Homo sapiens: one gene and its partners. The protein of the gene in region 1 interacts with the protein of each later gene in a biochemical or structural test. Each region holds a gene or a part of one and is shown in the gene's direction. Other genes may lie near its edges.

What was found.
Region 2: the proteins of ERBB3 (region 1) and NRG2 form a complex in vitro, tested with the Homo sapiens proteins (2 studies listed by BioGRID).
Region 3: the proteins of ERBB3 (region 1) and SHC3 form a complex in vitro, tested with the Homo sapiens proteins (2 studies listed by BioGRID and IntAct, with this or other methods).
Region 4: the proteins of ERBB3 (region 1) and NCK1 form a complex in vitro, tested with the Homo sapiens proteins (2 studies listed by BioGRID and IntAct, with this or other methods).
Region 5: the proteins of ERBB3 (region 1) and HCK form a complex in vitro, tested with the Homo sapiens proteins (2 studies listed by BioGRID and IntAct, with this or other methods).
Region 6: the proteins of ERBB3 (region 1) and TNS2 form a complex in vitro, tested with the Homo sapiens proteins (2 studies listed by BioGRID and IntAct, with this or other methods).
Region 7: the proteins of ERBB3 (region 1) and ZAP70 form a complex in vitro, tested with the Homo sapiens proteins (2 studies listed by BioGRID and IntAct, with this or other methods).

The regions. Positions count from the first base shown.
Region 1 is NC_000012.12:56,086,665-56,090,740, forward strand, and holds part of ERBB3 (receptor tyrosine-protein kinase erbB-3 isoform 1 precursor), read left to right. Parts: intron 1-912; coding exon 913-978; intron 979-1,130; coding exon 1,131-1,249; intron 1,250-1,356; coding exon 1,357-1,498; intron 1,499-1,878; coding exon 1,879-1,992; intron 1,993-2,083; coding exon 2,084-2,204; intron 2,205-4,076. UniProt on the Homo sapiens protein: Tyrosine-protein kinase that plays an essential role as cell surface receptor for neuregulins.
Region 2 is NC_000005.10:140,036,383-140,040,458, reverse strand, and holds part of NRG2 (pro-neuregulin-2, membrane-bound isoform), read left to right. Parts: intron 1-4,076. UniProt on the Homo sapiens protein: Direct ligand for ERBB3 and ERBB4 tyrosine kinase receptors. Concomitantly recruits ERBB1 and ERBB2 coreceptors, resulting in ligand-stimulated tyrosine phosphorylation and activation of the ERBB receptors.
Region 3 is NC_000009.12:89,172,037-89,176,112, reverse strand, and holds part of SHC3 (SHC-transforming protein 3), read left to right. Parts: intron 1-4,076. UniProt on the Homo sapiens protein: Signaling adapter that couples activated growth factor receptors to signaling pathway in neurons. Involved in the signal transduction pathways of neurotrophin-activated Trk receptors in cortical neurons.
Region 4 is NC_000003.12:136,924,414-136,928,489, forward strand, and holds part of NCK1 (SH2/SH3 adapter protein NCK1), read left to right. Parts: intron 1-3,570; 5' UTR 3,571-3,588; coding exon 3,589-3,814; intron 3,815-4,076. UniProt on the Homo sapiens protein: Adapter protein which associates with tyrosine-phosphorylated growth factor receptors, such as KDR and PDGFRB, or their cellular substrates. Maintains low levels of EIF2S1 phosphorylation by promoting its dephosphorylation by PP1.
Region 5 is NC_000020.11:32,099,709-32,102,842, forward strand, and holds the end of HCK (tyrosine-protein kinase HCK), read left to right. Parts: intron 1-1,608; coding exon 1,609-1,811; 3' UTR 1,812-2,148; downstream 2,149-3,134. UniProt on the Homo sapiens protein: Non-receptor tyrosine-protein kinase found in hematopoietic cells that transmits signals from cell surface receptors and plays an important role in the regulation of innate immune responses, including neutrophil, monocyte, macrophage and mast cell functions, phagocytosis, cell survival and proliferation, cell adhesion and migration.
Region 6 is NC_000012.12:53,056,423-53,060,498, forward strand, and holds part of TNS2 (tensin-2), read left to right. Parts: intron 1-521; exon of another isoform or gene 522-590; coding exon 591-674; intron 675-1,144; coding exon 1,145-1,257; intron 1,258-1,350; coding exon 1,351-1,411; intron 1,412-1,604; coding exon 1,605-1,680; intron 1,681-1,893; coding exon 1,894-2,023; intron 2,024-2,149; coding exon 2,150-2,215; intron 2,216-2,291; coding exon 2,292-2,405; coding exon of another isoform or gene 2,406-2,432; intron 2,433-2,624; coding exon 2,625-3,836; intron 3,837-3,982; coding exon 3,983-4,076. UniProt on the Homo sapiens protein: Tyrosine-protein phosphatase which regulates cell motility, proliferation and muscle-response to insulin. Phosphatase activity is mediated by binding to phosphatidylinositol-3,4,5-triphosphate (PtdIns(3,4,5)P3) via the SH2 domain.
Region 7 is NC_000002.12:97,716,468-97,720,543, forward strand, and holds part of ZAP70 (tyrosine-protein kinase ZAP-70), read left to right. Parts: intron 1-4,076. UniProt on the Homo sapiens protein: Tyrosine kinase that plays an essential role in regulation of the adaptive immune response. Regulates motility, adhesion and cytokine expression of mature T-cells, as well as thymocyte development.

The DNA.
Region 1 (4,076 bases):
CCGTGATCAAGATTGCTCCCCAGTCCCACCAAACCAGAGTGACTCCCTTCTTTCCATCATCCTTACATTCCTGATCTGAACCCGCCTCCCCAGTGAACAAACACCTCAGGTCCCTGACTCAGCAGCCCACCAGGGCAGACCATTCCAGTCTCCTGGAATCTAAACCACAGAGGAGGTGTTTCAAGAAAAGGAGCAGGCCGAGCATGGTGGCTCATGCCTATAATCCTGGCACTTTGGGAAGCCAAGGTGGGAGGATCGCTTGAGCCCAGGAGTCCAAGACCAGCCTGAGTAACATAGCAAAAAATCTACAAAAAATTAAAAAAATCAGACAGGCGTAGTGGCTCGCACCTGTAATCCCGGCTACTCAGGAGGCTGAGGCAGAGGATTGCTTGAGCCCAGGAGGCTGCAGCTGCAGTGAGCTGTGATTGTGCCATTGTACTCTAGCCTGGGCAACAGAGTGAGACCCTGTCTCAAAAAAAAAAAAAAAAAATCCCTGAGTACTAAGCAGGGAAGCCAGATCTTTAGACTCCACATCTGTTACTCGTTCCACTAGAATATACTCCCATTTCCTTGGAGCCCACCTTCCCCTGACCATTCACATGCATATATTCCTGCATATATTCAGTTTGCCCAGGAGGAACTAAGTTCCTGGGTTGGGACTAGGACTAAGGTTGGCATTTGCCCCAGTCCCTCCCCTTCAGCTGCCCAGTGGGTGGTGTGGAGGCGTGGCCGCGCCCCTTGTTGACAGGTCCACTTGAGCCCAGCCCTGCTCTCCAAGGGCAGGGAGGGACACAGCCCTGGCTTTTTGCTTCCCGGGATTGAGGTGCCTGTGTACTGACATCATACCCCGTTGATTAAAACAAGCCTTTCTTAGCCCTGATGGCCCCTTGTGTTGCCTTCCTTCCCAACCAGGTCCCCCCTGTCATGAGGTTTGCAAGGGGCGATGCTGGGGTCCTGGATCAGAAGACTGCCAGACATGTGGGTTTGAAATTCCCTCCAAAAACTTCACTCATACGCTTTCATATCCCTTCCTCCCCAAGCCTGGGTCAACACTGTGGGGGAGGCATGAGCAGTGGCCTCAGAATTCAGTCCTAGGAGCCCTAACAGCCATGCTTTCTCTCCTTCCATAGTGACCAAGACCATCTGTGCTCCTCAGTGTAATGGTCACTGCTTTGGGCCCAACCCCAACCAGTGCTGCCATGATGAGTGTGCCGGGGGCTGCTCAGGCCCTCAGGACACAGACTGCTTTGTATGTACCCTTTCCATTGCCTGGGTTCTGAAATTGGGATGTGGCCTTTGAGGAGGAGGTAGGGGTACACACGTAACATAAATCTGATGAGCCTCCTTTTTTCCCAGGCCTGCCGGCACTTCAATGACAGTGGAGCCTGTGTACCTCGCTGTCCACAGCCTCTTGTCTACAACAAGCTAACTTTCCAGCTGGAACCCAATCCCCACACCAAGTATCAGTATGGAGGAGTTTGTGTAGCCAGCTGTCCCCGTAAGTGTCTGAGGGGAAGGAACAATGATCAACAATAGTAGATCCAAGATTTTAGACAAAATTGTGGAAGGGAAAAAGAATCCAGTTGGTGATAAATAGGGAGATTGGTGAATGGTTATGATCATCTAACCACTCCAGTGAGTGACCCTTACGTCCAGTCCTCCCATGACTTCAGCTATCACCCTTACTTCTGCTCCTTGTAGCAACAAATAGTGAAGAGACTTTTGAATCTATAGGGCAGCACTTAAGGGATCTAGGGTGGCAGATGGGGACAAATCCAGTGCAGAGCTGGAGGGAGCCTAGGCCCAGAGCAAGGGTTCCATTGGTAGCTGGTGATGTTCCTCCCTCATCTCTAATGGTGTCCTCCTCCTCTTCCCTAGATAACTTTGTGGTGGATCAAACATCCTGTGTCAGGGCCTGTCCTCCTGACAAGATGGAAGTAGATAAAAATGGGCTCAAGATGTGTGAGCCTTGTGGGGGACTATGTCCCAAAGGTGGGTAGGAGATGGTAAGAAGTTGTAAAGAGACAGCCTTTCCTCTGAGCCTGCGCAGACCACCCCCACTGAACCTCTCTTACATTTGCAGCCTGTGAGGGAACAGGCTCTGGGAGCCGCTTCCAGACTGTGGACTCGAGCAACATTGATGGATTTGTGAACTGCACCAAGATCCTGGGCAACCTGGACTTTCTGATCACCGGCCTCAATGGGTTAGAGATCCTGCCTTCCCTCCTTAGACCCCAGCCCACGCACCCCTCACAGTTCATTTCATTGGCCAAAACTTTCCTATGTGGAGCTGACTAGGAATCAAAGTCATAAAATTCTAGCCTGTTACAAAGGACCTGAAAGAATGCTTAACACATCCTCCATCCAGGCCTTCGGTCCCCTCAGGAACATCTTTGAGCAATTCAATATCGCCCTGCCAAGGAACAAGGGACAGGAACAACATATCCTCCTTCTTAAAGTTTTCTTTTTTATTCTTTTTTCTTTTTTGAGATAGGGTCTTGCTCTGTCACCTAGGCTGGAGTGCAGTGGCGTGATCTCGACTCACTGTAGCCTCGACCTCCTGGGCTCAAGTGATCCCAAGTAGCTGGGACTATAGGCACACACCATCATACTTGACTAATTTTTTTGTATTTTTTTGTAGAGACAGGGTCTTGCTATGTTGCCCAGGCTGATCTCGAACTCCTGTGCTCAAGCAATCCTCCCATCTTGGCCTCCCAAAGTGCTAGGGATCACAGCACCCAACCTCCTTCTTAAAGTTTTGTAAAAGTTCTTCCTTAGATTTGGATAAAAATCTGTCTCCAGGCTGGGCCCGGTGGCTCATGCCTATAATCCCAGCACTTTGGGAGGCCGAGGTGGGCGGATTACGAGGTCAGATCGAGACCATCCTGGCTAACATGGTGAAATGCCATCTCTACTAAAAACACAAAAATTAGCTGGGTGTGGTGGTGCACATGCCTGTAATCCCAGCTACTCAGGAGGCTGAGGCACGAGAATCACTTGAACCCAGGAGGCGGAAATTGCAGTGAACCGAGATTACACCACCGCACTCCAGCCTGGCGACAGAGCGAGACTCTTTCTCAAAAAAAAAAAAGAAAAGAAAAGAAAATTCTGTCTCCCCATGACTTTTAGCTGTTTTCACTCATTCTGCTCCTTGGAGCAAAAAGAACAAAGGGACTTTCTAGTCTATAGGACAGCATTTAAAATGTGTGTGTGTGTGTAAAAAAAACCCACTATGACCACCTGTTTTTTTTTTTCCTTTAATTTTTTATTTTGACATAATTTTAGATCTACACTAAAGTTGCAAGAATGGTATAAAATTCCCCATATACTTTTTTTTTTTTTTTAAGACAAAGTCTCACTCTGTTCCCCAGGCTAGAGTGCAGTGGTGCAATCTTGGCTCACTGCAACCTCCGCCTCCTCTGCCTCCCGGGTTCAAGCAATTCTCCTGCCTCAGTCTCCTGAGTAGCTGGAATTATAGGTGTGTGCCATCATGCCCGGCTAATTTTTGTATTTTTAGTAGAGACAGGGTTTCACCATGTAGGCCAGGCTGGTCTCGAACTCCTGACCTCAAGTGATCCACCCGCCCCAGCTTCCCAAAGTGTTGGGATTACAAGTGTGAGCCACCGCGTCTGGCCCCCCATACACTCTTTTACCCAGATCCTCCAAATGTTAACATACCACATATGGCCGGGCACAGTGGCTCATGCCTATAATCCCAGCACTTTGGGAGGCTGAGGCAGGTGGATCACTAGGTGTGGATCACGAGGTCAAGAGATTGAGACCATCCTGGCCAACATGGTGAAACCTCATCTCTACTAAAAATACAAAAATTAGCTGGGCGTGGTGGTGTGCGCCTGTAGTCCCAGTTACTCAGGAGGCTGAGGCAGGAGAATAGCTTGAACCTGGCAGGCAGAGGTTGCAGTGAGCCGAGATCGCGGCACTGCACTCCAGCCTGGTGAAAGAGCGAGACTCTGTCCCCCGCCAAAAAAAATACCACATACGCTTTATCACTTCTCTCTCTCTCTGTCTCTCTCTACACACACACACACACACACAAAACACATGCTATTGTTTTT
Region 2 (4,076 bases), on another chromosome or scaffold:
TCTAGTGGGTATTCAGTAGCTTAACAGTTGAATGCAGAAATCATGAAAGATTTGAGGGGCAGAAATATGGTCTGTTTCTAGGTTATGATCATCTCATATTATCAAAATAGCATGTGTAGTATAGTTCTTAAAAAGATACATTTAGAACTGCAATCACTGGTAAAGGAAGGGCCCTCACATATCACAAATTATCAAGGATCAGGAATGTGTATGGCAGTAAACATTTTAGAATGCAAAAAAAAATTGCTTTGAATTGATATTCAAAGGGAAGTATATAAATAGGTACCATTTTGGGGAGCCTTATATAAGGGGATTAGAAATTAAAGGACATATTTGTGAGACTTGTGGAATTGGTGATAATATAACAGAAGAGCATAAACTGCATTTTCTTGTTTTCTACTATGTGGTTAAAGAAAACATGTACTGGTAATGCTATATTAAATAAGGAAACAAAATCATCCTAACTAACCACAACACTGTCCTTGTGCTTAGCAGGAAATAACTAACAAATTCATTTTCTGTTTTCTATTCTAAAGAAAGCCCTCTGGGCCACAGGGTCATTGGGAACATTTTCTCCTTGGAGCAGATTTGCCCATTGCAAAATAGGGAAACTGGCACTTGGAAACTGTCGTCATGGCCGTTACATTGAGCAACTGAGGTTGCATTGTTGCTTTGTTTAGCTAGTTTCAGGTCTGAGTGTGTGTAGGTTCTGAGAGGTGTGGTTCTCTGGGAAGTCACCTAGAAAGCCCGTGGGTTTTTTTTTGGAGGGGGGCAAAATATGGAGGGATAATATTGTGTTTAAAAATTGGCCTCAGGAGCATCAATGCAGGAGGTCACACTGGACCTCTTCTTATCAGTCCTCATAAATGGCTCGTTTCCACCATGAAATGTTGACTTGAAGTCTGTGATCTAAGGTGGGGAAAGGTAGACAGGGGTCTTTCTGGAAGAGCAAGACCTGCCAGAGTGATATTTTTACATATCTAATGTGTATCATTTATCCAGAAAGAGTACATCTGGTGATAGAGTTGAGTAAAATCTTTGCATTTCTTAGAAGATTGCATTGTATGGAGGGAGGTGTTTTCTGTGCCTTCTGTGGAAAGGCGAGGAAAAAGAGTTAGAAAGGCCTTGCAGGGATTAGCAATTCTGTACAATGTTATAAAAACATCATGTTCTGCAAATAGTCCTGCATTTTAAAAGATGGTTGCATATATTTTGGTATAATTACACCCTATCTTGTTGTTTTCTTATATTCATGTTTTTAAGCAGTTTCCTTATTGAATAGATGCAGTAAATAGCATAAAAAATGAAGATCATTTCTTTCTTTGGGATTTCCTGATTAGCAGTTTTCCAGTGTATAGTGTACTTTGTTGCTACAAGGAAAGGTGTATTCCTAAGGATTTTTACATTCTTTAGGATAGTTTTAAATTAATGTGGCACCCAGATTCACATATTAGAGAAAGGTGGTTCACAAAATTCAGTATAGCAAAAGCGACTACATATTTTTTAAATGCTGTTTATTTAAAGAATCTTTTCTTCCCCAGCCAGCTGGAAACCCAGCTGTGCTGCAGCTTGAAGATGGGAAAGTGAAACTAGATTAGAAACTGACCAGTCCTAGTGATGAGGACAAGGCATGGTTGTAGATTTAACGATTGAATTACCACCCTAATGTCATTATTTCTTGTAGTGGCTGCTTTCCTCGGCAGACTGCATTCTTGGGGTAGGAACAATAGCTTATCTTTGAGGTCTTCTTTCTCCTAGTTCTCCTGCCCTGCCGCGTTTCGTACTTTGCCTGGTTTATAGAAGGACTCTCCATCAGTGTCATTTGAATGGATAAAGTCAAGTGAAGTTAAAGAAAGCCTCCAGATTAAAACTAAAACAATCTTAACTCTCTGACCTGTGACATCAAGTCCTGTGCTGAAAAGCTGAGTTTGATGATAGCCTTTACCTGTCGCTATGGGAACCTTTCTTCCGAAAGAATCATTATCAACTAGAGTACTTAACCACAATGTGCTTAATCATTGTGCTGATTAGTGTTAATGGGATTTGAGCACTGGAGAATAAAGATCTTGCTGGAAAAGACCCTCTTATTTTTTTTTCTTTTGGAAGGTAGATTACTACTTGCCCACCCCCAAATTTAAACAAAAATAAAACAACCGTCGGTTTGAATTAACAAACAGTTTGAGAGCTAGGGATGGTGGTATATTAACAATCTAGGTGACTAACTTCCTCTCGGCCCCTAATCAAAGCAAGTGTGCTTCCCCTTTACTATCCTGTTTTATCTAGGGCATTTTAATTTTATTTCCTAATATCAATTAGTTTTTTCTTTATAAAATTATATTTATATTTTTGGAGCTGTAGCACATTTATATGGCTCAAAATTCAGAAAATACATAAAAATATATGATGAAAAGTTTCCTTCTTAATCCCTGTTCTCAGCTACCCCGCTTTAAGGCTCTGTGGTAAAATATTCAGGAATAATTTATTCTTGAAGTGTGTGTTTCTCTAAAAACACAATGTTTTTCAAAGCAGTCTTTTTTTTTTTTTTTTTTTTGAGATGGAGTCTTGCTCTGTCGCCCAGGCTAGAGTGCAGTGGCACATTCTCAGCTCACTGCAACCTCCGTCTCCCTGGTTCAAGCAATTCTCCTGCCTCAGCCTCCTGAGTAGCTGGGATTACAGGCACCCGCCACCGCGCCCGATTAATTTTTGTATTTTTAGTAGAGACGGGTTTTCACCATCTTGGCCTGGCTGGCCTCGAACTCCTGACCTCGTGATCCACCCGCCTTGGCCCCCCAAAGTGCTTGGATTACAGGCGTGAGCCACCGCGCCCGGCCCAAAGTAGTCTTAAATTTTCTTTCAACAGAGGGAGAATGTTAATTTTGCCATTAAGCCAATTTTGTGGTAAATTCTTCCCAGGTAATACATATTTTCTTAACCTGGCCCAAGATCTTATCTACCTAGTTCCAGTGATCTCTGAGTCCTCTATCTCAAGTATCTATTAAAGGATCCTCTTTTCTCCTCAATACCTTACCTCACAAATATAATTCTGGACTCAGGAATGAAAATACCAACTTATTTTTCAGATACTTTGCCGTTAAGTTTTCCCTGACAATACATTGTATAAGTCTTAACTGGGATGCTCAAAGGAGAGATCCAAAGGTTTATCACTGAGATTTAGGGCTGCATCTCAACCCATACAGCAATTCTTATTGTTTCACACGCTTGGTGATCTCACAGTAGAGTCCATGTGGGAGATCACATGATTTCACAGACAAAAAGAGAAAACTCCACAGTGCATGATTGCTTTGATTTTCATTCAGAAGACAGAGACCGCAGTTGTCAATGAAGAGTTTGATTTTGACCATATTCATGCACAGCTGGTACAATCCCAGGGAATTTAGCTACCTGAATACTGTTCTGAAGTACGTTTAAAGTAACTGATTGGAACATAGTGTTAAAATTTCAGAGGATCAGGGAATTGCCATTTGGATACATAGGAAAAAAGTAAATATGCAAATATCAAAGCAGCAGAAGTCTTAACCCTCTAAGCGCTGTTTGCTTAGTGGCATTTGGCAATTTTGAAAATTTGTGAAAGGAATGGTGATATCAGTATCATTGAAGTTTCCCCAGTGCAGTTTTCAACAACTTGTTCTTAGATCTTTCTTTGCAAGATCTGAAGTGCTGTTAGTATAATTTGCACTAAAAGTAAAAGAAATTTCCCCCAAATTTTGTGTTTGGATGGATGGGTGTATATGGTGTGGGGATTTCTGTCTTACTTGTTGCTAGCAAATTAACCCTCTCCTCCCACTTACTTTTTCGAATTTGTACATAGAAATAAGTCCAGTTTATGAATTTCAAGAGATGATACAGGCAACTCTTTAGGAAACTAGGGAAAGTAGATGAATTAATCGGTAGAAGTGCTAAATTATGACAAGTTTGAACAATGACTTTTATATTTAATTAAAGTAGACTTCTTTAAAAACAGTAATACACGCAGATGAATCTTGCTGAACTAGAGCTCCATGTCAGGTTGTAAGAACTGAAGCACACATAGAGGACGATTAAAAGGTATTAGGATG
Region 3 (4,076 bases), on another chromosome or scaffold:
ATGACTAATTAGGGCTCTGTACCATCCATGTTTTGGTTCCTTGTTCATTAGCAGCCATGAATGGTGCTGTGATGTGAACATAAACGCAGGCATTGTCCTCTGCTGTCCTGGAGAAGTTTGAAATCACGCAGAAAGAAAACCAGATGCTAAAGTGTGTGTGCATGTTTGATTCAAATTATCACATGGCCCTCTGTTGGCGCACATGTGCAAATTCCCGCATTGCCCATGTTGAGTTTAAAACCTCGAACTTATTTTATTGAAAAATTGTTAAACTGAAAACAATCTTAATTTGGCGTTATTTAGAATTTTTGAATAGTTCTACCGGTATCCTTACTTTAAAAGATTTCTGGTAGATAGAAATGGGCCATCTTTATCATATGACTAGATACCAATAGTAAAATATAAAGGTTTAGGGTTTGGGAAAGGATGCATTATTCTCTTTGATATAATTTTTTTCTAAATTAAAAATAAAGCCCCCAAATGTTTTCTAGTTTCCTGGAAAATTTATATACTGTATTATAGATTTTCCCCCTCAAAGAAATACCTACTTACAGGTGATATTAGGATATTGCACATATGAATTATAATTCAAAAATATTTCAACTTAATCTGAGAACAGGGACTGTAAAATACAGAAGTCTGGTGAATTTTGATCATCTAGGAAACATTAAACTATTTGAGCAACAGCTTAGAATGTGAATTAATGAAGGACTTAAAATTTAAACATGGAAGAAGTTCCTGAGCAACAGTAGAATTCAAAGCTCAAAGCATGTCTAATTGGTCCATCATTGAGTTTGCTGCTAAATAACAGAATGGGGCTATGCACACAGAAAGGCTGCAGCTTACTCTGCCTAGAGGTTTATATTCTTTTCAGCTGGGCCTCATTGGCAGCACCTTTTTACTCCCCTAAGTATCTTGACATTTCCTTTTTTCTTTTGGTGACGTAAAAGAAAGAACAAGGAACTATGCTCTTGATAGAAAAGAAAAATCCAACAGCAAAGAACAATGACTATTTTCATTAAATTTCCATTTTAAAAGTATTTGATATTTGGACCTAAAAGAAATACCAATGAGTATTGATTACGGTGCTGCCCACCTTTAAATTATCTTATCCTAAAGTCAAGCCTGGGTAGGACCCCAATCACTCAAGGAGGCTGCTGGTCTTTAGCAGGTTCAAAAGGCAATATCCTGGTCCTCCACCTTCTCTGTCCTCAGATCCACGGTGGGGAAACTGTAGGAAGGAATATGAACAGTGCAGGGGACAGGAGGCAGGGGTTCAGTTTTTAAAGAGCCAGTGGGCCATCTGAAGACAAGCACAGCCTTGACATTCAGCTCTGAAACTGCCTGCTGGAGGGGCGAGGCTGGAGCAGGAAGCAATGCTGTGTGGGCTGCACCGGGTTTGCCTTTGGCCCCAGCGTGGTCCCCAAAAGACGGGCTCCTTCTTAGAGCACATCACAGCACAGACTTCAAAAGGATAAGAAGTGACCATATTTAGAAATGACCCAAGTGCCAAGGGCAAGAATCAGGAGGCCCAATGTAAAAGCAATGGTTTTAGGTGCCCACTGCTCAGAGCTATTCCAACAGCGTCAGCATTCAGTGAGCCAGCAGATTACGCCATTCATAAACACCTGTGAAGGCTCCAGCGAAGTTACATAGGTTTCAGCTTGTGGAGTGTTGTATATTTACTGACAGTGAAAATGGCGAGCTATTTATAGGAGATTTAACGATCAGAAAAGTACTGCATTATTTCCTGATACACTGGACCCTTCCTGATATGCTTCCCTTTTGGAACAAAGCTCTGTTTTTACAAGGACTCTTTAAAAATTATTTTATTACTCCCATTTGTGCATCTAATGATATTTGGGGTGGTATAAATCATTTGCTTTATTTGTAAATGCTCTACTGCCTTTTATAGGTGGTCTTCGTAAATTACATTTACTCAAAAATTTATTCTTAATTTTTTTCACTTGACAAAGTGTATAAAAATATCTTAAATTTTCATTTTCTCAGAGCTGTATTCTTTTGGTAACTGTGAGCAAAGATCATACAAAAGTTATTTTAACTATATTAAAATAACTATATCAATTCTACTATAATATTGTAGAATTTTATTTTACCTCTAGACTGAAAAATTGATTTTGATGTGGAGTTGAACTTTAAAAAGTTGATTTTTTTCTCAAAATTCTTTCGAAATCTTATGATATGGATGGCTTACACGTAAATATCTAAATGGTTTGAAAAATAGTTTAAGAATTTCTTTTGACATTAATATATAAAGTTATTAATTTGATCTGGATAGTGAGTTGTCTCTTTTTATGTGACACAAACATAGATGTGTTAAAGGCACACACACACCACACACATATACACAAACCACACACACACCTCACATATACACACACATATGCACATACACACCATGCACCCACACACAACCATACAGACACTGCACACACACAACACACACACCCCACAGCCCACAGGTAGATGACTTGTGATGACTTTGGATGGGGGCTGTTTTCTTTCTTGTTAGAAAATAGGAAATGTCATATTTCTAGAAATACCCAATTATCTCAGTCATTTCTTTTATATTCATGTTTAAGAAAAAGATAAGCTACGACAAAACTTCCATCCTATAAAGAACAGATGGCTGCTTCTCTGCCTCCGCACGGTGTCTTACCTTTGAGTATATGTCATAGTTTTGAGGAATATATGATTACTATCATTAAAGCAGAGTCCTGGGAACAGAAAGCCTGGGCAGCAAACACGTGAACCCACTTGCAAGACTGGCTTTCCAGCCAACAGGCTGGCCCTGCAGGATGTGCCGGTGCTGCTGGCCTGCAGTGCCTGGCTTAGGGTAGGGGACATTAGAGCAGACACCTGGCCTGGTGAAGGTCCTGGACTGGTGAAAGGCAGGACACCTGGGCTGCAGCTCCACCGCCAGCTTAGTGTGGGGCTAGAGCAGTCAGCTCACCTCTCTGGACCTGGCTGTCCCTGGCTGCAGCAAGTTGAAGGCAGGGTTGTGCTGGGGTTGGTCTCTATGGGTTGGAGGCCTGGCCGAGGCAGAAATGGTGGCATCTGTATTGTTTTTTGCACCAGCATCTAATGTAATTGGAAGAGACGGGCCCAGGGAAGCACACTGCAGTATCAGGAGTGTGCTCACCTGATGGACACCTGCTGGATCACTGGGGCCAGGGCCAGACCCTGCAGTACAAGGATCCAAGTCCATGGTGGGGCTCAGAGGAAAGCAACAAGGAAGAGCCAGCATGTTCAATGAAAATACCCAAGGGCAGTAGAGTTAGTGAATTATTTAATTCATAAATAAAATGGTTTCAGATGCAATGGAAAGAAATGACCAGTTATGTGTGTTTCCTGGGTAAAGGACAAGAAAACAATTTTGCAATTTATCATAAGAGTTCTATAGTATGTGGTGGAAAAATAATATCTTTAAGGTGGGAGGCAGTGAGCATAGGAACAGCCTACTGAGTGGGTGGATGTTGACCATCGTGTGTGTGTGTGTCTGTGTGTGTGTGTGTCTGTGTGTGTGTGTCTGTGTGTGTCTGTGTCTTCGTGTGTGTGTGTGTCTGTGTCTGTGTGTGTGTGATGGGGTGTGGGGATGTGCAGCTGCACAATATGCCTTACAAGTTGGTTTTGGTCTTACAAGTTCATAATTACTCATTTTCTGTTGAGTTAAAAAACAAAACAAAACATTTTGACCCCACTGTGATTTTGCCTCTCCCCTCCCAACCAAAACAACAACAGTGTGACAAGGATCCACTGAGGGTCCACTGGGAGTAATTAATCCATGTCTCCCAGTGCTAGAATTGGTGAATTTTCCCTGAGTGGCCACGTCAGAGTTGCAGAGCAGTCACGGTTATAAATAAGCAGAGTGGCACCAGTTACACTGGGGTCAGAGGGATTAGGCATCCCTATTTGGACCATTTGAACCCCAGTGAGATACCAGGGGCCAAAGGCCATGTTTCCATGGTTACAGGCCATGCTGATCTTCTTTGTCTTTGTGAGGAGAGTTGGTGAGAAGGTGCCGGATATACCTCAGCCCTCCTGTACCACCTGAC
Region 4 (4,076 bases), on another chromosome or scaffold:
ATAGAGTGGGGAAAGAGAACAGTGTCAGAGACTTAAAACATGTTAGCTTAAGTGCAATATATCGACTTAGTTTGGATCCCAGTTCACACCAACTGTAAGAATGTTTAAAAAAATACACTTAGCAAAAATTGAATATTAGCATTAGATGAAATAAGTGTTGCAGGAGTTCTTAATAAAGGAACACCTTTTCAAAATGAGCTTTTGAAAATATACTGATAATTTAATTTTAGTATAATTGACTTGTTTGCAATCTTATATATTTTTATGCATCAGAAACATTGTGAGTAGAGGTTCTATGTTTCACCACACTGCCATTAGGCAGGAGGAGGGGAGGTCCATGGCTTAACCCATTTGTGCCTAGTGTTCCATTATTGGAACGCTAAGCTTGTGAGAGTTATTTATATCATGCTCAAGGTCGTCACCAAGGTCTGATTTTTCACACAAGAAATTGCAACCTCCGGCATATATGGGTTAAAAAAGGGAAAAGGTCAGGAGCCCTTGATTTGTTCATTTTTGAGGGGTATGGGTTTTTAATCTGTTAGTGCTTAATGAAATCATGGGATTCCAGTTCCCCCACCAAAAATTAGGGGGATAGCTGAACCACAAGGCATAATATTGATAAAATTGGGTGATAGGTATAGGATTCATTATACTATTCTCTTCTGTAAATGTTGAAAAGTGCCATAATTATAAAACTTAAAAGCATTATATAAATTTTTAGTTATTATACCAGTAATGTAGTAGAATGCTATTTTTGTACATTCTGGGGAGGACTAGATAATATTGGTAATACTTTTGTCACCCTGATAGGTAAAGTGTGGTATTTCAGTTTAGTTTTCATTTCTTTAATTATAAAGATATTCAGGATCTTTTGAATACTTTTTGACTATTTGTGTTTTCTCTTTCAGTTTTTATTTTAATTAAACTTTTTATTTTGAGATCATTATAGATCCACATGCAATTCTGAGAAACTTTAGAACTTATTGCGAGATCCAGTGTATGCTTTCCTCCAGTGGCAATACATCTGGCAGAAGTATAGTACAATATCACAATAATATTACAAAATTTCTTCATATTGCCCTTTTATAGTCATACTTACTTCCCTCCTGTTCCTGCTGCCCCGTTAACCCTGGCAACTACTAATCTGTTTCTAATTTCCATATTTTGTCATTTTGAGAGTGTTATATAAATGGAGTCATATAGTTAACCTTTGAGATTGGCTTTTTTCACTGAGCAGTTATAATTCCCTGGAGATTCATCCAGGTCGTTTTGTGCATCAATTGTTCTTTTTGGTATGAACGTACCAGTTTGTTTAATTATTTGCCTGTTGAAGGACATCTGGGTGGTTTCCGGTTTTTGACTGTTAGAAATAAAGTTGCTGTTAACATTCATGTAAAATGTGAACATAAATTTTCATTTCTCTGGGATAAATACCCAGGGGTGCAGTTGCTAGCTTGTATGGTAGTTGCATGTTTAGTTTTATGAGAAACTGTCAGACAATTTTGCGGAGTATCTGTACCATTTTACATTCTCATCAGCAGTATACGTGTGATCCAATTTCAACTTACCCTTGTCAGCATTTGGTATTACCACTCTTAGCCATTCTGACAAGCGTATGTAGTGACATCTCAGTGTGGTTTTAATTTGCATTTCTTTAATAGCTAATGATGAATACCTTTTCATCTGCTTATTTGCCATCTGTAAATCTTCAGTGAATGCCTCTTCATGTTTTTTTGCTCATTTTCTAGTTGGATTTGTTTTTCTAATGTTTCTTTAACTTTTCTAACTGCTTAAGATAGATACTCAGTTCATTAATTTATTTTTAGCTCTTTTTAAAATTTTATTTTAAATTTTATTATTATTATTATTATTATTTTTTGATACAGAGTCTCGCTCTGCGGCCCAGGCTGGAGTGCAGTGGCGCGATCTCGGCTCACTGCAAGCCCCGCCTCCCGGGTTCAAGCCATTCTCCTGCCTCAGCGTCCCAAGTAGCTGGGACTACAGGCACCCGCCACCACGCCTGTCTAATTTTTTTGTATTTTTAGTAGAGACAGGGTTTTACCGTGTTAGCCAGGATGGTCTCGATCTCCTGAACTTGTGATTCACCCGCCTCAGCCTCCTGAAGTGCTGGGATTACAGGCATGAGCCACCGCGCCCGGCCACTCTTTTTGTTTTTTAATGTTACTATTTAAAACTAAAAATCTGTCTATATACACTCCTCTTGCTACATCCCACAGAGTTCGATGTATAGTTTTTAAAATTATTTACTTCTAAGTATTTTCAAAATTCAATATGATTTCTTCTTAGATTCATTAGTTTTTAGAAGTTTCCAAACGTGGTATTTCAAAAGTTATCTTTTTGTTATGGTTGTTGGAGAATATGGTTGTAGGATATCAGTTACGTGAACATTGAGACATTCTTTATGGCCTGGCATTTGATTGCTTTTTGTATGTGTTTCATTTGTTTTCTATTTGGAAGCAATATTCTGTATATGTCTATTAAATCAGACTTGCTGGTTGTGATATGAGTTCTTCTCTAGCCTTAATAATGTTTGTATTTATTTATTTATTTTTTTGAGACCAAGTCTGGCTGTGTCACCCAGGCCTGGAGTGCAGTGGCACGATCTTGGCTAACTGCAACCTCCGCCTCCCAGGTTCAAGGGATTCTCCTGCCTCAGCCTCCTGAGTAGCTGGGATTCCAAGTGTGCGCCACCATACCTAGCTAATTTTTGTATTTTTAGTAGAGATGGGGTTTCACCATGTTGGCCAGGCTGGTCTTGCATTCCTGACCTCAGGTGATCCACCAGCCTCGGCCTCCCGAAGTGCTGGGATTACAGGTGTGTGCCACCAGGCCTGGCCGTTTTTATTTCTTTGTTTTGTTACTCTGATAATATGTTAAAAATTGTCCTCTGTGGTAATGGGTTTGTCAAGATCTCCTTGTGGTTCTGTCAACATATTTTGAAACTATCTTGTTACTAGGTACATAGAAGTTTAGATATTGTAATTGAGTAGAACATTTTTCATTGGGTAGTGAACTTTATTGCTAGTAATGGTTTTTGCCCTTTAAGTTTTGTTTGATACTAATAGAGCAACACCAGTCTCTTTATTGATTGGTTGATTGATTGATTGAGACAGATTCTCCCTCTGTCGCCAGGCTGGAGTGCAGTGGTGCGATATCGGCTCACTGCAACCTTCGCCTCCCAGGTTCAAGCTATTCCCATGCCTCAGCCTCCTGAGTAGCTGGGACTACGGGTGTGCACCATCACGCCCAGCTAATTTTTGTATTTTAGTACAGATGGGGTTTCACCATGTTGGCCAAGCTGGTCTCGAACTCAACCTCAAGTGATCTGCCTGCCTTGGCCTCCCAAAGTGCTGGGATTACAGGCATGAGCCACTGCGCACGGCCATACAGTCACAGTCTCTTTAAATTACTATTTGCCTCATGTATTTTTTTCCATATTTTTTACTTTTCATCTTTATGTCTTTAGATTTTTAGGTGTGTCTCTTTTGAAAAGCATGTGAACTAATACTACCTCAACCTTACATAAAAATATTTTCCATGTGTTTACAGTGCTGAAGCTGCTGAAAGATGGCAGAAGAAGTGGTGGTAGTAGCCAAATTTGATTATGTGGCCCAACAAGAACAAGAGTTGGACATCAAGAAGAATGAGAGATTATGGCTTCTGGATGATTCTAAGTCCTGGTGGCGAGTTCGAAATTCCATGAATAAAACAGGTTTTGTGCCTTCTAACTATGTGGAAAGGAAAAACAGTGCTCGGAAAGCATCTATTGTGAAAAACCTAAAGGATACCTTAGGTAAGATATTTTTTAAAAGAAAAGCAACTTTGTTTTAAATGAAACCTGCAACTTAGTTCTTTGTACATAATTCTGGCAGCAGTGTGCATAATTGACTTGAAAAGGCAAGGGCTAGGTAAGTTTGAGTCATAGCAGGTGGTCAACCCAGAAGACCAGTGAAGGTCATAAGTGTTAACATGCAGTTTCTGTAAATCTAGGCCCATGCTCCAAGTCAAGGCAGAGTGATACCAATGAGTAGAACTAACTCTCACCTTCTAGCAGG
Region 5 (3,134 bases), on another chromosome or scaffold:
AACATATCCCAAGTCTCACCACTTTGAACCCCACAGTCTCCACTGCATCCAGGCCAGCGTCATCTCCCATAGATGGTGCAGCGGCATCCTCATCAGTCTTACTGCTTTCTCCCTCCTCGTCCTACAGCCTATTCTCCACTTGCAGCCAGAAGGATAATTCTAAACTTTAAATCAGATCTTGTCCTTTCTCCACCTTTTTTTTTTTTTTTAAGACAAGGTCTCACTCTGTCACTGAGGCTGTAGTGCAGTGGTGTAATCATAGCTCATGGCAGCCTCGACTTCCTAGGCTCAAATGATCCTCCCGCTTCAGCCTCCCGAGTATCTGGGACCATAGGCACATGCCACCATGTCTGGCTATTTTTTATTTTTTTAATTTTTTTGTAGAGACTTGGTCTCACTACGTTGTGCAGCCTGGTCTCTAACTTCCAGGCTCAAACGATCCTCCAGCCTTGGCCTCCCAAAATGCTGGGATTACAGACACACACCACCATGCCCAGCTAATTCTTTAAATTTTTTGAGAGACAAGGTATTGCTATGTTGCCGGGCTGGTGATTTCCATTTTTAAGCGATGCTTTCAGCATGGAGAGTGAATGGGAGGGAAAGGGAACAGGGTGGCAGCCAGTGAGGAGGCCACAGCAGTGGCCCAGGCAGAGGTGATGATGGTCTGGACAGGGTGGTGGCATTCGTGACTGGCATACGTTGATGAACTGGTGCTACGTTTCAAAAGGAGAAAAGATCTGACTTGCTGACTTAGGAGGTGAGAGAGAGAGAATAAAGGATGATTACCCTGGCTTTGCACCACAGGGTGGGTAATGGTCTAGGGATAGAAATTGGAGAGCTCTGTTTTAGCTCTGCTAAATTTGAGTTGACTTAAATATAGAGACATCCAAGTAAAGGAAGCACTTGAGTTCATGAGTTTGGAGTTTGAGACTAATAATATAAAATTGGGGATCACAGACATTGAATGGCTATTCTTATGAATAGCTAATAGAAACTTGAACTGAACAAAAAAATGGTCCCACCCATAGGTTAACATTGAATCTGGCCACCTGAATGTTTTGTCTTGAGGGTGCACTAGTCAAAACCAGGCAACACACAATAGACGCTGAATCCATTAGGATGTGTTCCACAGCAAGCAACAAAATAACAGACAAAGAGTAACTGAAATAGAAGCAATCTATTACTCCCAATCTTCCATTGGTGACTGGTTAGTTCAGCAACTCAGCAGCTGTCAGGACTCTGGGTTCCTGTCTCTATGATGGTCTTCTCCATGTTGTCAGCTCCAAGTATCATAAGTATCTCACAGTGTTCAAAGGAAGAGATGAAGGGTGCGTTCTCCAAAGACTCTCCTCTAAGCGGGAGGAAAAACCTTTCCATCACTTTCCCAGCAGACCTCCCCATCAGCTCCCATTGGCCCAAACTGGGTCCCAGGCCCATGTCCTAGCTGCAAGTGAAGCTGAGGGTGGAAGTCTGTCTTTCACAGTGGAAGGGGCTCAGCTTGCAAGGTGAGGTGGGGAGTGATGCCTGCTGGGGAGGCCACAGGGCCTGCCACCCCTGGGCTCTCATTTCCCAACTGCTTCCGTTTCTAATTCCACGGCTCCTTTTCAGGGATGTCAAACCCTGAAGTGATCCGAGCTCTGGAGCGTGGATACCGGATGCCTCGCCCAGAGAACTGCCCAGAGGAGCTCTACAACATCATGATGCGCTGCTGGAAAAACCGTCCGGAGGAGCGGCCGACCTTCGAATACATCCAGAGTGTGCTGGATGACTTCTACACGGCCACAGAGAGCCAGTACCAACAGCAGCCATGATAGGGAGGACCAGGGCAGGGCCAGGGGGTGCCCAGGTGGTGGCTGCAAGGTGGCTCCAGCACCATCCGCCAGGGCCCACACCCCCTTCCTACTCCCAGACACCCACCCTCGCTTCAGCCACAGTTTCCTCATCTGTCCAGTGGGTAGGTTGGACTGGAAAATCTCTTTTTGACTCTTGCAATCCACAATCTGACATTCTCAGGAAGCCCCCAAGTTGATATTTCTATTTCCTGGAATGGTTGGATTTTAGTTACAGCTGTGATTTGGAAGGGAAACTTTCAAAATAGTGAAATGAATATTTAAATAAAAGATATAAATGCCAAAGTCTTTACCAAAACGTTGGTTTTCCTGTCCTTCCAATTCCTGAATATCTATTTGCCTTCTTGCTGTATGACAAGTCAGAAATGGTGAAGGACTCTCCCGGGGACCAGAAATACAAAGACAAGTGGGGTTCAGACTGGGTGCTGTGGCTCCCACCTATAATACCAGTGCTTTGGGAGACCGAGGAGCGGGGGATTGCTTGAGCCCAGGAGGTCGAGGCCACAGTGAGCTATGATCGTGCCACTGCACTCTAGCCTGAGCGACACAGTGAGACCCTGTTTAAAAAAAAAAAAAAAAGATGAAGAAGAAGAAAGAAAGGAAAGGAAAGAAAATTGGGGTTCAATGCTTGAGGTTTTCTAACTGCCCTAAAATAGTTACTGGCTATATTAGTTTCCTCTTGCTCCTGTAACAAATTACCACATATCTGGTAGCTTAAGACAACAAAACTGCATAACATTACTTGGCCGGGCATAATGGCTCATGCCTATAGTTCCAGCATTTTGGGAGACTGAGGTGGGTGATCACTTGAGATCAGGAGTTCGAGACCAGCCTGGCCAACATGGTGAAACCCCGTCTCTACTAAAAATACAAAAATTAGCCAGGCATGGTGGTGGGCGCCTGTAATCCTAGCTACTGGAGAGGATGAGGCAGGAGAATTGCTTGAACCCGGGAGGTGGAGGTTGCAGTGAGCCGAGATTGTACCACTGCACTCCAGCCTGGGCAAGACAGCGAGACCCTGTCTCAATACATACATACATACATACATACATGTATAACCTTACTGTTCCAGAAAAGCAAGACCCTGTCTCAATCAATCAATCAATCAATCAGTCAATACATGTATAACCTTACTGTTCCAGAAGTCAGAGGGACTGAAATGGGTTGGCAGGGCTGCATTCTTTTTGGAGGCTCTAGGGGATAATTTGTTTCCTTGCCTTTCCCAGTTTCTAGAGGCTGCTCCTATTCCTTCACTCATCAGCCCCTTTCGTTCATTACTCCAAA
Region 6 (4,076 bases), 3.0 Mb from region 1:
GCCAGAAGCCCCAAACCAAGCTGTCAGCAGGCCCTTGCTCCATCTGAGACTCGGGATGGAATCCTTCCTTGTCTCTTTCTAGCTTCCAGTGGTGGGCGGCAAGCCTTGGCATTCCTTGGTTTGCAGACACATCACTGTAATCGCTGCCTCTGTCATCACATGGTGTTCTCCCTGTGTGTCTCTGTCTGTGTCTCTTCCTCTCTTCTTATAAGGACACCAATCATATTGGATTCAGGGTCCACCCTCCTTCAGTATGGTCTCATCTTAACTAATTATGTCTGCAACGGCCCTATTTCCAAATAAGGTCACATTCTGAGGTACATGTCTTTTGGGGGGATATAATTCAACCCATAAGATGGTTTTGTTGCCCTGTTTTACAGATGAAAAAACTAAAGTTCAGGGAACAATTGCCTGAGGCCCAACAACTAGTAAAGTGACTGTACATGGTGCTTCTCATTCTCATTACCACTACTCTGGGCTTCTTCTAGACTTAGAGAATCATATTTCTCCTCCATCCCCTGGGGCTTAGGGATGGGAGGCCAGGATGAAGATTAATCCCTAATCCCCAACACTGGCCTTGCTATCCCCAGGGCGGACCAGGCACTGGCCACTCTTACCATGCGGAAATTCTGCGAGGACAAGGTGGCCACAGAACTGCAGCCCTCCCAGCGTCGGTGAGCAGCCTGGGTGGGGATGGGCCAGAGGAGCAGCTCCCTTCATGGCTACCAAGGCCAAGACTCTCTTATTCATGCAGCACACTTTCACTGAGTGTGCCAAGCGCCGTGCCAGGTGCTGAGAATTCAAAGTGGACAAAGCCCCTGCTCTCATGGAGCTTTCATGCTAGTAGGGTGGAAGGCAGTAGACCTGGGAATAAATAGACGAGGAGATCAGTCATAAAGAGAACCTGAAGGACAGTCAGGGCCTGCCACTATAAAGTGAAGCAGAGCTCTGGGGAAAGAGCTTTGAGGCAGAGGGGAGCAGGAGGGATTGAGGTTAGATGCAAGGAAGAACTTTCTGGTGACCCGGAAGATGGGAAGGAAGTGTTGAGCAGAAGAGCGAGCCTTCTAAGGGTGGATGGTTGAAATGATACAAGGTGACCTCCAGAGGAAAAGGCTTATGTTCTCCTTGACACGCCCTCCACCAGATATATCAGCTACTTCAGTGGGCTGCTATCTGGCTCCATCAGAATGAACAGCAGCCCTCTCTTCCTGCACTATGTGCTCATCCCCATGCTGCCAGCCTTTGAACCTGGCACAGGTGAGTCTGCCTGAGATGTGCTCCCTAGGGAGAACCACCTTCAGGCCCTCTCCACTCAGCACCCCTCCTGTGCCTTCTCCTCTGCCCCTCCAGGCTTCCAGCCCTTCCTTAAAATCTACCAGTCCATGCAGCTTGTCTACACATCTGGAGTCTAGTGAGTGCTCTATTCCCAGGCCCCTGACACTTCATGACCAGGGCCCCTCTTGCTCCTGCATTCCTGCTTCTCCAGCCTCCCTAGACACCTGGGCAGGGCTCAGACTCTGGTCTCCTGGCTCCCCCTGACTGCATAGCTGCCTCTGCACGCAGGAGCTTCTGGTTCATCTCTGCCTTCTCCTCTCTCCCCACAGTCACATTGCAGGCCCTGGTCCCCAGCAGCTTTGCATCAGCCTGGAGCCAGCCCTCCTCCTCAAAGGCGATGTCATGGTGAGGGGGGTCCTGTCAACAAGAAGAATCCTGGAGATGGGGCAGGGGTTGGTGGTGTAACGGCACAGTCACCAATTTGAGACAGATTGGAGAGCGAGTAGGGAGATCACCTTGAGATCGAGGCAGGGCAGAAGCTGTGACCAGGCAGTCCCCAGGGTGGAAGCGCAGAAGAGGACATGAGGCCTGATCCGCAGCCTCCTGCCTTTCTCCCAGGTAACATGTTATCACAAGGGTGGCCGGGGCACAGACCGGACCCTCGTGTTCCGAGTCCAGTTCCACACCTGCACCATCCACGGACCACAGCTCACTTTCCCCAAGGACCAGCTTGACGAGGCCTGGACTGGTGAGTCTGAGACAAGTGGCCTGGGGCTGGAGTCCAGGTGGCAGGCAGGTGGCAGGCAGGTGGCAGGCAGGCAGGAGAGTGTGGTATGGGCCAGGGGCCTGGTTCTTCACTGTCCACTCCCCATAGATGAGAGGTTCCCCTTCCAAGCCTCCGTGGAGTTTGTCTTCTCCTCCAGCCCCGAGAAGATCAAAGGTAAGAGCAGGGACATGGGCTGGGGACTGAGGGCCGCCTCTCCCCTGCTCCCCAATACCCGAGTGGCCTTCCACAGGCAGCACTCCACGGAACGACCCCTCGGTCTCTGTCGACTACAACACCACTGAGCCAGCCGTGCGCTGGGACTCCTATGAGAACTTCAACCAGCACCACGAGGACAGTGTGGATGGTGCGCAGGCAGCCTGCAGGGTGGGAGGTACAGGGTTGTGGCGGGACCCTGGGGGGTGGTGCCAGGGAGAAGCACACTCCCTCCTCCCCAGGCAGAGCCCACTCCCGAGAGACACCCCCGGCCCGACAGCTGTCTCCAGTGCCATCCCCTCTCATGAATTTTCTCTCTCCCTCCCTGTTCCCCGCTTGCCCTCCCTCCCTGATCCTCTTCCCCACTCAGGCTCCTTGACCCACACCCGGGGTCCCCTGGATGGCAGTCCTTATGCCCAGGTGCAGCGGCCTCCCCGGCAGACCCCCCCGGCACCCTCTCCAGAGCCTCCACCACCCCCCATGCTCTCTGTCAGCAGCGACTCAGGCCATTCCTCCACGCTGACCACAGAGCCGGCTGCTGAGTCCCCTGGCCGGCCGCCCCCTACAGCTGCTGAACGGCAGGAGCTGGATCGCCTCCTAGGAGGCTGCGGAGTGGCCAGTGGGGGCCGGGGAGCTGGGCGCGAGACGGCCATCCTAGATGACGAAGAGCAGCCCACTGTGGGCGGAGGCCCCCACCTCGGAGTGTATCCAGGCCATAGGCCTGGCCTCAGCCGCCACTGCTCCTGCCGCCAGGGCTACCGGGAGCCCTGCGGGGTTCCCAATGGGGGCTACTACCGGCCAGAGGGAACCCTGGAGAGGAGGCGACTGGCCTACGGGGGCTATGAGGGATCCCCCCAGGGCTACGCCGAGGCCTCGATGGAGAAGAGGCGCCTCTGCCGATCGCTGTCAGAGGGGCTATACCCCTACCCACCTGAGATGGGGAAACCAGCCACTGGGGACTTTGGCTACCGCGCCCCAGGCTACCGGGAGGTGGTCATCCTGGAGGACCCTGGGCTGCCTGCCCTATACCCATGCCCAGCCTGCGAGGAGAAGCTGGCGCTGCCTACAGCAGCCTTGTATGGACTGCGGCTGGAGAGGGAGGCTGGAGAAGGGTGGGCAAGTGAGGCTGGCAAGCCTCTCCTGCACCCAGTGCGGCCTGGGCACCCGCTGCCTCTGCTCTTGCCTGCCTGTGGGCATCACCATGCCCCGATGCCTGACTACAGCTGCCTGAAGCCACCCAAGGCAGGCGAGGAAGGGCACGAGGGCTGCTCCTACACCATGTGCCCCGAAGGCAGGTATGGGCATCCAGGGTACCCTGCCCTGGTGACATACAGCTATGGAGGAGCAGTTCCCAGTTACTGCCCAGCATATGGCCGTGTGCCTCATAGCTGTGGCTCTCCAGGAGAGGGCAGAGGGTATCCCAGCCCTGGTGCCCACTCCCCACGGGCTGGCTCCATTTCCCCGGGCAGCCCGCCCTATCCACAATCTAGGAAGCTGAGCTACGAGATCCCTACGGAGGAGGGAGGGGACAGGTACCCATTGCCTGGGCACCTGGCCTCAGCAGGACCTTTGGCATCTGCAGGTGAGGGGCACCAGAGTGCGGAGTGCCCAGGGCAGAGGAGGTTCTGGAAGATGGTGGGGAAGTCAAGGGGGAACAGGGTGAGAAACAGCTAAGCCAGACAGAAGAGCCCCATCCTGCTCACAGCCCACCTCTCCCCTTCACTGCAGAGTCGCTGGAGCCGGTGTCCTGGAGGGAGGGCCCCAGTGGGCACAGCACACTGCCTCGGTCTCCCCGAGATGCCCCATGCAGTGCTTCGTCAGA
Region 7 (4,076 bases), on another chromosome or scaffold:
AGAACAACAAAGCTGGGTCAGGGCTAGAGAGAGAAGGAGAGGCTATTTTGGAGAGGGAGGTCAGGGAAGGCCTCCTGGAGGAGGTGACTTAGGCAGAGACCTGAATAAAGTGGAAGGTGTTGGAGGAAGAGTCTCCAGGCAGAGGGAACAGACAGTACAAAGGCCCTGAGGCTGCACCATGCCTGGTTTGTCCGAGGGACCTGAACGAATAACATGAGGAGGCCCGTGTGGCTGGAGGGGAGTGAGTGGCGGGGGGTGGTGATGGGCATCATGAAGGGCCTTGGGGGCCACCCTGAGGACTTGCATTTTCACCCCGAGTGAGGTGGGAGCCTAGAGGGCTTCAAGCAGAGAAGAGGATGTGATGGCATGACGGGGGCCAGCAAGTCTCACCCCAGGGAGTCCCTGCAGCCCCAGTGCTGGACACCTTCACTGGCCCTGCTTTCCGGAGGAGGTCTGGCGAGCTTCACTCGCTGCTGAGGCTGCACTGTGACCATGTGGTGGGTCCACGATTCCATGATTTGAATCCAATCCCTGCAGTCAGGAAAGACATATGAAGGAGGAGCCTGCAGCCATGGCTAACTGCGGCTGTGTGGCTCATGGCGTCACCAAGCTGGCGTGTGCTGACGACCAGTGCCTATGCTGCCTCTGTTGGTGGGCACAGGCGGCCCGAGCACAGCTGGGGGATTAAGGAGCAGGGAACATGGCTTCAGAGGGACTTAGGGTCTCAGGTGAGGACTAGGGGTTCAGAGAGAGAGAGCCAGGAGCTGGAGTGGGAACAGGGTGGTGGGGGGGCAGTAGGAGGAGGTGGGGCGGTGAGGGGCTGGGGCCCTGCTCCTGCAGAGCCTTGGATGGGGACATGTCAAGCCTCTGGCTGGGGGGACATGCGGAGCCTCTGGCTGGGGAGACATGCGGAGCCTCTGGCTGGGGGGACATGCGGAGCCTCTGAGCCTCTGGCTGGGGTGACATGTGGAGCCTCTGGCTGGGGGGACACGAGGAGCCTCTGAGCCTCTGGCTGGGGGGACACGTGGAGCCTCTGGCTGGGGGGACATGTGGAGCTTGTGCTGCTCCTGCCCGCTCCCACCAGGTCCAGTGGCTTTGGTGTGATACCTCTGCTCTGACGATGGGCATGTAATGGGGGCTTCTGATGCCCAGGGAATGTTCTGTGAAACAGTAGACCTTCAAGGCTTTGCTGAATAGGTGTGGGAATTAAGTGACGCTGAAAGAGGTCCTTCCATGTGGTCTTCTCGGAGCCTTTAATGTGCTTTTCACAGCATTTGAAACTGTATTTGACCCCTTGACTCTTTTTTCCTTTGAAGCATGTTTGGGGAATCTGATCTCTCTGGAACAGCTGTAATCTAGCACTGCCTTTACCCAGGGAGGCTGGGTGAATGGTGGGATTCCAGGCAGGTCCTTCTGACCAGGCTCCAAGGCTTCCTCCCATCATCCTCCCAGGGCCTGGGCTGTGAGTGTGGGGCAGGTGCCCCGTGGCTGCTCTGCTGTGATCTCTGTGCTGTGATCCAGGGGCTGTAAGTTCTGGGAAGGCCAAACTAGGATCTCTGAACTGTGAGCTCAAGAGGAAGCTGACTGGGGTCAGCCTAGGGAGAACCATAGGCCAGGCTTGGGGAATGAACAGGCTCACTGGGGACTGAGGGACGCGGCTCCTAACCCAAGTCCTGTCCGTCGGGATGGCCCAGGCAGGTCGAGGGCTGGGGTGGGTCTCATGGTGGGTGTGTCTTCTGGGAGGGCCACGAGTCTGCAGGGACACAGCTGAGAACAGAAACATTTGATCCCCTGCCTGGGGTCTGGGGTCACCCCGGGGAGCTCTAGATCGGTGCAGCTCACTGACAGCAGACACTCCGGCTAGCCGCTGCGTGGCAAATGCTCCCACCTCTTGCCCCCGGACTTTTCATCTCTGCCACCTCTGCCCACCTTCTCTGGCCTCCCCAGCATCTCTGGCCATGGGGTCCCTGGGAACTTGGGCCCCATGTTTTACTAGTGAGGACAGTCCAGAAAGGCCCCAGGGGTGGAAGAGGAGGCGCCCACCACCCGACCTGTGTGTGTGGGGTGGTGCTTGTGATTACCGTTGTCCTTGTGGGCAGTGGGACAGGGAAGCTGGGACGCAGCCGAGATGCACAGGAAGAGAGCCTGCCTCTGGGACTCCTTAGCCTCGGGTCATGGATGGCAGCCCTGGGCTGGGCACTGAGCCTCCCTCATCTCCTCTTCTGCCCTAACCCACTTCTAGCTACCCAGGCTGCACCTGCGGCCACGTGGGGAGGAGCTTCTCAAACTGTGTTGGCGACAGTTTCCTGCCACAGCTTCCTGCCCCAGAGACCAGCTTTGCTACTCTGCACCCATGGTCCTTGGACAAGCCCTCAGTTTTCTGCCTCATCCTGCATCCTCATGCTTTATGGGAGTGGCTCCATGAGTCTTCAAGGATGGGCTGGCTGGGTTGGAGAAGATGGAGGGGAGAGGGAAGGGTGCACTAGGTGGAGGGTGCTGTGTGGATGAAAGTATGAACATCCATTTGAAGGAAGGCAAGTAGCACAGCTCAGCTGGGGCAGAGGGCTGGGGAGATCCAATGCAGTAGCCATTAGGGTCTTGAGCAAGGGAGGCCTTGGGGAAGAATTGCCAAGGAGCAACTTGCAGACTCTGGGGCTCAGCTCTGTGGAAATAGACTGTGAGGTTCAGCCAGCCACAGGCAGCATGAGCATGCCATCTGGATCTTAGGTTGGTTGTATTAATGGAAACAGTTGGTGGAGATCAAAGGAGATGATGCCAGCACCAACCGACCTCAGTCGGGCGAGAGATCTGGGCTCTGGGAGAGGTGGGTGTGGCAGCATGTACAGCTACTGACAGGATGACCCAAGTAAGGGGACGGGGGTGGGGGAAGGAGAGTGAGCAGGATGGTCAGAGGGCAGAGGCAAGCCAGGGAGTTTGTGAAGGACCAGAGAGGTCTGTGGGGCTCAAGCAGGAGGGAGGAGTCATAGGTGTCGGCCATTCAGGGGGCCCAGGATTGAGGAGGTCACAGAGTGCTTGTCTGGTGCCTACAGACTGCCAGGGGTGCTATCAGTGCTGGAGAACAGCCTGGGGGGGGGGCGCAGACCAGGTCTGGCTGAGAGGCTGGGAGTCAAGGACATAGGGACAGGAGTGTAGACAGCCCTTAATCACTTTTCCTATTTTCATTAGCATTTTTAGTGTCCATTGTGTCTGTATCTTCCAGTTCCTTTCCCCCTTAATTAAAAATTTGGGGTATAATTTACATGCAATAAAATTTTTATATCATTTTAGTGAAAAATTCTGAGATTTGACAAATGCATACAGCCCAGAGACTACCACCACATCAATCAAGATACAGACTATTCCCCCAAATTCCGTCCTGCCCTCTGTCGTCACTCCTTCTCCGGCCCCCAGCACCCAGCAACCTCTGGTGCGTTTTCCGTCCCTATAGTTGTGTGTGGAATCACACAATTCGTAGCCCTTGGAACCTGGTTTCTTTCATCCAGCCTGAGGCCTTTGCGATGCGTTTGCGGAACTGCGTGTCTCCGTATGCTGTTCCACTTACCGCGGAGTAGAATTCCACTGTAGGCATGTCCCACAGTGTATCTTATTCATCTGTTGGGAAACATGTAAGTTATTCCTAATTTTTGGCAACTGTGGCTAGTACGGCTATAAATGTTCCTGTGTAGGTTTTTGTGTGAATGTAAATTTCCATTTCTTTAGAGTGAATACCTAGGAGCCTTCATGGGTTTTTTTGTTTTGTTTTGTTTTGTTTTGTTTTGAGATGGAGTTTTGCTCTGTTGCCCAGGCTGGAGTGAAGTGGTGCGATCTCGGCTCACTGCAACTTCCACCTCCTGGGTTCAAGCGATTCTCCTGCCTCAGCCTCCTGAGGAGCTGGGACTACAGGCGCCCACCACCACGCCCGACTAATTTTTTTGTATTTTTAATAGAGACGGGGTTTCACCATGTTCGCCAGGCTAGTCTCAAACTCCTGACTTTAGGTGATCCGCCTGCCTCGGCCTCCCAAAGTGTGGGCCACCGGGCCCAGCCATTAATTTTTGTATCTTAATGGAGACGGG